Linked DNA regions of Homo sapiens. The protein of the gene in region 2 interacts with the protein of the main gene of each other region in a biochemical or structural test. Each region holds a gene or a part of one and is shown on either strand. Other genes may lie near its edges. The genes, in order: PRKCZ and ADAP1.

Region 1 (3,805 bases), on a different chromosome or scaffold from region 2:
CTGGGATGAAAGGCGTGAGTCACCGCGCCTGGCCCAGCTCAGACAACGTTTGTGTTCAGGGAGCTTCTGTGTGCAAAGCCCAGGGCTTGGTGCTGAGGCCAACAGAGACGCAGGAGTCTCTCCCGGGCGGCCCAGCTGGCTGCTGGGTGCTGAGTCCTGGACGCCCCTGCTGAAGGGCACAGGGCAGCTGTTTGATTCAGGATTGGGATAGGGTTGGAGGTGGTGGCCTGACACTTCCCAAGCCCTGGGGTTTTACTGGAGCCACCCACCTGGCCTCTAGATTGGCCGGAAACTGGCTTCCACTGGAGGCAGGACTGTAGGGGTAGGGGCGTGGGGCAGGAAGAGGTCAAAGGTGAAGTGATGGCCGACTCCCACTCTGGAGTTCCTGGTGGTCAGACTTTTGGACTCCAGGTCAGGCAGCAGGCGTGGATGTCAGCTTGGGGCGACCCCAGGGTGATGGGTGTGTGACCCCCCTCCATTCCTTACTTTCCTAATCTGCCATGATGCTGTGGGCTGTGGCGAAGACCAGCCAGGTTGGTTCCTGTGGGGTGCTTGGGCACTGGGGGCAGGTGCTGGGTGGCCAGTTCCAGCAGGAAGGGGTGGGTAGCTGGGGCGTCTGTCCCCCAGGCCCAGGTGGCCCAGGGTGACTGGGTGAGGCCTGTGGGGCAGGTGGGCCCTGGGCTGCTGTGTCAGGGCCGCGGCTGTGGACCGATCCTGTGTTCTGTTTGCACTGGAGTTCTTGTCTGGGATGAGAACTTTGTTTCTTGAAACTTGTCTGATGAATTCAGATAACCTTGATGGGGAGCCAGCAGTGTCAGCGAAGAGCAGAGCCTGTATCTCTGGTTGGGACATCTCACACCCCTTCAGGCTTCTTTTTATAGGCCCTGTGCTCTTGCCCCGCGCTCTTGTGGGTGTCAGAAAGCCGTAGATTTTTCTGAAAATTCAGTGTGTTCACAAGGGTGTGATTCCCGCTCTGAGTTTCAGGAAACACCAGCTGGGCCCTGTGGTGGTCCCTCCCCTCCACGCAGGGTGAGACCAGCTCTTGCTCAGTGCAGGAGGTGAGGGGGGACCTCGGGTCCCTATCAGCAGGGAAGTGCCAGCCTTCAAAGGGTGCCTGGGAGTCCGTGAGCTTCCCCAGCCCCTGGAGTTCAGGTCCTGTCTGGGGCTGAAAAGATAAAACACACTGACTCTGTGTGACTCGGTTTTAAAAAAAAAAAAATCTGCCGGGGCTTCTGCCGTGGCTGCAGCAACGGACCCAGTGCCCACTCCGGGGTCTAAAGAGTGGCCTTTCATTATGGAATTATTTAATCCCCGCCACTTCACCGCTGGCACCGTCGAGGTCTGGGGGCAGGTCTGACTGGTTTCCTTTACCTTAGTGAAGCCGGCGGCCTGCACCGACCCGGCTCGCGCCCATCCCGGGGTCACCCACATTTGGGTGAACTTGAACGAGTGCCCGACCAGGTAACGTTGCCGGACCTCCCACAAGAGGGCACTTTCTTTTCTCCCATTTTGTCCTCATTCTTTCCAGCCAGGTAGGTCGCGCTTTTTTCTCTGTGCAAGGAAGTTGATGGTGGTCATTTTTTTTTTTTTTTTTTTAATACGGAGTCTCTCTCTGTCGCCCAGGCTGGACTGCAGTGGCGCGATCTCGGCTCGCTGCAAGCTCCGCCTCCCGGGTTCACGCCATTCTCTTGCCTCAGCCTCCCGAGTAGCTGGGACTACAGGCGCCCGCCACCGCGCCTGGCTAATTTTTTGTATTTTTAGTAGAGACGGGGTTTCACCGTGTTAGCCAGGATGGTCTCGATCTCCTGACCTCGTGATCCACCCGCCTCGGCCTCCCAAAGTGCTGGGATGACAGGTGTCAGGCACTGTGCTTGGCAATGGTGGCCATTTTTTAAACTATGGTTATGGTTAATGGTTCTATTTTGTGTGTGGGAGGGGGGAGGGGGTGGGGCTGTCATATTGTCTTTGGGGAAAGTTTCATTTATCTAATCAATGATTTGGTTAGTTGGTAATCATTTTTTAATTTGATTCAAATATGCCCCACGGTAACAGATGCCCATGTCCCCTCTGCCCCAGGGACATCTTCATCACCAGCGTGGACGCCGCCACGACCTTCGAGGAGCTCTGTGAGGAAGTGAGAGACATGTGTCGTCTGCACCAGCAGCACCCGCTCACCCTCAAGTGGGTGGACAGCGAAGGTAGCCCTTGTCCCATGTTGGCCAGAATCCTCAGCCTCAGGGGACTTCGCCAGGGCAGCCTCTGTGTGCGGAGTGTGCTCAGCCAATTCTGTGGGGAGACTTAAAGCTGTGGAATTAAACTTGTTGGCGCCAACTTTTCCCCAGTGGGGATGGTGGGAAAGAGGTTGGCCACAGATGCTTATCAAGGACCTGGGCCCAGATGCCCCTAGGAAGGGCTCTGGTCTTGAACTGCCTGCAGGGGGTCTCCCTGCCCCACCCTGGGCAGGTCCTCACCTCTTCCTCTGACCTCCTTTCTCATGTCCTGGCCTTTTTCGGTAGGTGCTTCTGAAAGGATGGGCTCTTCATATTCTAGGGACCACGGGGAGGGCACAAGCAGCCAGGGCCTGCCGTGTCCACCTCCTGTCTCTTAGACACATCCTGAAAAACAAGGGGATTGGGAGACGTCCAGAGAGACCCCTTTCTCCCAGGGACTGGCGGGCAGCTCTTGGCCAAGGACACGGCCGTGCGGGTGGAGCCTGATAGCGCCCCCGTTGGGTTGGGTACAGCCCTGCAGGGCCTGGGTTCTGTACACCTCCATGTCCCTTTCCAGCCATAGAGGGCAAGGAGCTCTCCCTCCGCCCAGGACTGACCTCCGGAGAGTGTCCTCAGCCCCGCTCACTGCTTAGCCCTCCAAGTGGTGCCCAGGGCTGCAGGTGTACTGACTTCCCTTCCGGGGTGGCTCTGACGCTGCACCGGGGGCCAGGTGACTCCCTAGTGTGGACGGCCGTCCTTGGACCTCCCGACCCTGCCAGGAGGTGGCCAGTCTGAGCATCGGGACTTTGCCCCCCACCAGACCCTTGTCTGGTGTGCTGAGCGGGCTCGTCACAGCCCCCTTTGCCTCGGGCCTTCGGCGACGTCAGCACCGTCTCCTGCCCCACCCAGGTGACCCTTGCACGGTGTCCTCCCAGATGGAGCTGGAAGAGGCTTTCCGCCTGGCCCGTCAGTGCAGGGATGAAGGCCTCATCATTCATGGTTAGTGGCGGGGTCTGTGGTGGGCAGCTCTGGGGGGCTGTTCCTGGCTGTGGGTGTCTGCCGACTAGCTGGGGGATTTAAAATGGTTTAAAATCCTATGATGCCAGAGAATTTAGGGATGTCTAATATAATGCCATTTGGGTTTTTTTCTTTGACTTTTTTTTTTTTTTTTTGAGACGGAGTCTTGCTCTGTTGCCCAGGCTGGAGTGCAGTGGCACAATCTCAGCTCACTGCAAGCTCCGCCTCCTGGGTTCATGCCATTCTCCTGCCTCAGCCTCCCGAGTAGCTGGGACTACAGGCGCCCGCCACCACGCCCGGCTAATTTTTTGTATTTTTTGTAGAGACGGGGTTTCACCGTGTTAGCCAGGATGGTCTCAGTCTCCTGACCTCGTGATCTGCCTGCCTCAGCCTCCCAAAGTGCTGGGATTACAGATGTGAGCCACCGCGCCCGGCCTTTTCTTTGACATTTTATTAACCCAAATGAAAACTGCTCTTAACAAAGAACCCGTAAACCACTCAGAGGCTCCAGTGGCCAGCGTAGGGCCCGCGGCGCATGTGGACAGAGGGGACAGCCCCACCAGCCACCTCACCTGCCC
Region 2 (2,945 bases):
CGGATTCCTCCATCCTAGTACGTTTGTCCCGCGGTTTTGAAATTCTCCAATGCTGTGCGTGTGTTGGCAAGGGTCCCTCGTCTTTTCATGTGCTGGGTACAGGCCCAGGGTGGCCCTTCCAGTCCAGTTACTGGTTTCCATGAGGTCAGGGATTGCTTTCTTATCTAATGATTTCCTCCCTCCACTTTCCCTGTTCTCATTTTCTGAAACTCCTGTTATTGGTGCTCTTAAACTGGTTCATTTTTCTTCTACTTTCTGGGAAATTTCTTCAACTTTGTCTCCAACACTGTGTTGAGGGTTTTGTTTCTGCTGTCATGCATTTAGTTTTTCAGAGAGCCTTTGGTTCTTGGAGTATTTATTTTTCTTTCTTTCTTTTCTTTCTTTTTTTTTTTTTGAGGCAGAGTTTCGCCCTTGTCACCCAGGCTGGAGTGCAGTGGTGCAATCTCGGCTCACTGCAACCTTTGCCTCCCTGGTTCAAGTCATTCTCCTGCCTCAGCCTCCCGAGTAGCTGGGATTACAGGCATGCGCCACCACACCCAGCTAATTTTGTATTTTTAGTAGAGACGGGGTTTCTTCATGTTGGTCAGGCTGGTCTCGAGCTCCCGACCTCAGGTGATCCACCTGCCTCAGCCTCCCAAAGTGCTGGGATTACAGGTGTGAGCCACTGCGCCCAGCCGCAATTTTTGTATTTTTAGTAGAGACCGGGTTTCACCATGTTGGTCAGGCTGGTGTCCAACTCCTGATCCTCCAAAGATAATTCCCCCCGCCCAGGGCAGACGCTTGGCCCCCAGCTGTGGGAGCTGAGGGAGTTTCCGCTGCAGCCTGCAGGGTCACAGAGCTCCAGCGTGGAGTGCACCAGGCATGCCCCGTCTGCCCGGAGCCCCAGAGTCGGCTCCATCTCCTGCTGGGGGAAAAGGGGCGATTTTCCAACCAGTTCTGCTTAGAGCCCCCTGCATTTCCGGGGGACCTGGAGCTGTGAATTCCCAAGGCCTTTGGGGCAGTGTGGTGTGGACGGGTTCAGCTTCCTCTAGGAGGAGGGAGGGCGGGGCCAAATGGGACGGGGCGGGCCGGAGGAAAGGGTGGGCGGGGGAAGGAGGGGAGGCGGGGCCTCGGGCTGGTTGGGTGGCGTGGGTGTGGCTTGTGGGCGTGGCCTAGGAGGAAGGGCCACAGGAGAAAGCAGGGCTGGAGGCCGATGAGGGGCAGTCGGGGTGGGTGGGGCTTTGCTGGGTGGGGCCACTGGAAGAGGACAGGGCAATCCCACTGCTATGGGAGGAGCCTGGGGCTACACCATCCTCCAGCTGGTGCTGGGCCGGGTGCCAGCTGGAGAAGCCGTGACTGGATTGGTCCAGTGCTGGGGGCTTTGCCTGTGGGACAAAAGTCAAGGCCAAAGGGGCTGGGGAGAAGCCTGAGGAGGGATGGGGCTCCCTGGCTCTTCCTGGGCAGGAGAGGGTGCAGCCAAGAGTAAAGATGGGCACCTTTCCAGAGGTCACCAGCTCCAGGCTGTAGGCTGAACAGGAGGCCCAGGGCGCAGGTTATAATGTCATGGGGCCAAGGGTCTGGGCAGACCCCAGGAGGGGCGCTGGGTCTAGGGGCAGGGGACAGCCAGGCTGAAGTCTAGACCCAGAGGGCACCCGACGTGGGGCTGGGTGCCAGGCCTGGGCTATGGGCCCTCTGTTCCAGGGTGCTGGCCCACCCCACGCTCTCCAGAGGACCAGGGCGGCTCCCTGGAGAGCAGTTTTGCTCTCTGCCCACTCTCGGTAGGGGCCACAGCTCCAAGGGCGTTTATAAACAGATGAGCCTCCCTTCTCCCACCACCCCAAGACTTGCTTGAGCTACAAAATAAGGATCTTCATAAAAATAGCACCATCTGAAAGGAAGGCAAGTTGGCCCAGGCCCCAGCAGCACCAGGGCCACAGAGTGAGCTTGGATGGCAGCCCCCGACCCTGTCCAGCCCGGCCCGGCCCGGCCCTTCGGCCCTTCGGCCCTTCTCAGGACTTCGCCGGGGGAGGCTGCACCTGCCCTCCCGCAGAGGGGCAGCCCCTGTGTAGCAGCCCCGGCCTCAGCGTGGGCACAGGGGCCAGGCCTGCGGCAGGACTGCTGGGAGCTGAGGTGCCGGGGAGGAGGAAGGGGCTGGGCTCTGGGGGAAGCGGCCCCTCTGTGGGGACCCCAGCCCCTCTGTGGGGACCCCAGCGCTGCAGCCTCCTCAGCCCAAGCCTGTGCCCACCTTTGCCCCTAGGAGATTGTGGACTGGTTCAATGCACTCCGAGCTGCTCGCTTCCACTACCTGCAGGTGGCATTCCCAGGGGCCGGCGACGCAGATGTGAGTGGCGGCCCTGCGGTCAGCTCCAGGGCAGACAGGGGTGGTGGGGTGGGGGGTGGACGGAGCCCTCGTGCCCTGAGTCTGGGATGATGTTGAGCCCTAGGGTGGGCCTGGGACTGGCCAAGGGCTCACCCTGACGTGCCTGCAGCCCTCCTGCCTCACTCTAGAACTTCAGCTCAGCCAAAGGGGAAAGCGGGGAGGGAAGGGGTGGCAAGCAGAGGCAGAAATGTGGATCCTGCGGAGGCTAAGCCAGGCCTGGGCCCTGACCTGGTGGCCCGGGGTGAGGGGAGCACAGAGGGGCACAGCCAGGGAGGGGCTCGGCCTGAGCTGCACTTCTGAGGTCCCCTGCCTGGTGTGTCCTGCCCTAGCTGGTGCCAAAGCTCTCCAGGAACTACCTGAAGGAAGGCTACATGGAGAAGACGGGGCCCAAGGTGGGTGTGCCGCACGTGCGGCCTGGGGTGGCCTGGGGTACGCCATGGTGGGTCTCGGACTGAAGTGCAGCAGCCTTGCCAGCTGCCGCCTGTGTTTTAAACTGGTGTCTGGTGGGTCCTCACAGCCCCTTGTCTGTGCCTGGCCGGGGTCCCCGAGGACTCGGGCCACTGTCCTAGGCTTTGGTTAGACCCTC

The links.
Region 1: the proteins of ADAP1 (region 2) and PRKCZ form a complex in vitro, tested with the Homo sapiens proteins (one study listed by BioGRID).

Annotation. Positions count from the first base shown.
Region 1 is NC_000001.11:2,053,365-2,057,169, forward strand, and holds part of PRKCZ (protein kinase C zeta type), read left to right. Parts: intron 1-2,076; coding exon 2,077-2,198; intron 2,199-3,119; coding exon 3,120-3,209; intron 3,210-3,805. UniProt on the Homo sapiens protein: Calcium- and diacylglycerol-independent serine/threonine-protein kinase that functions in phosphatidylinositol 3-kinase (PI3K) pathway and mitogen-activated protein (MAP) kinase cascade, and is involved in NF-kappa-B activation, mitogenic signaling, cell proliferation, cell polarity, inflammatory response and maintenance of long-term potentiation (LTP).
Region 2 is NC_000007.14:899,908-902,852, reverse strand, and holds part of ADAP1 (arf-GAP with dual PH domain-containing protein 1), read left to right. Parts: intron 1-2,236; coding exon 2,237-2,320; intron 2,321-2,688; coding exon 2,689-2,751; intron 2,752-2,945. UniProt on the Homo sapiens protein: GTPase-activating protein for the ADP ribosylation factor family. Binds phosphatidylinositol 3,4,5-trisphosphate (PtdInsP3) and inositol 1,3,4,5-tetrakisphosphate (InsP4). Regulates the incorporation of CD63 and CD9 into multivesicular bodies.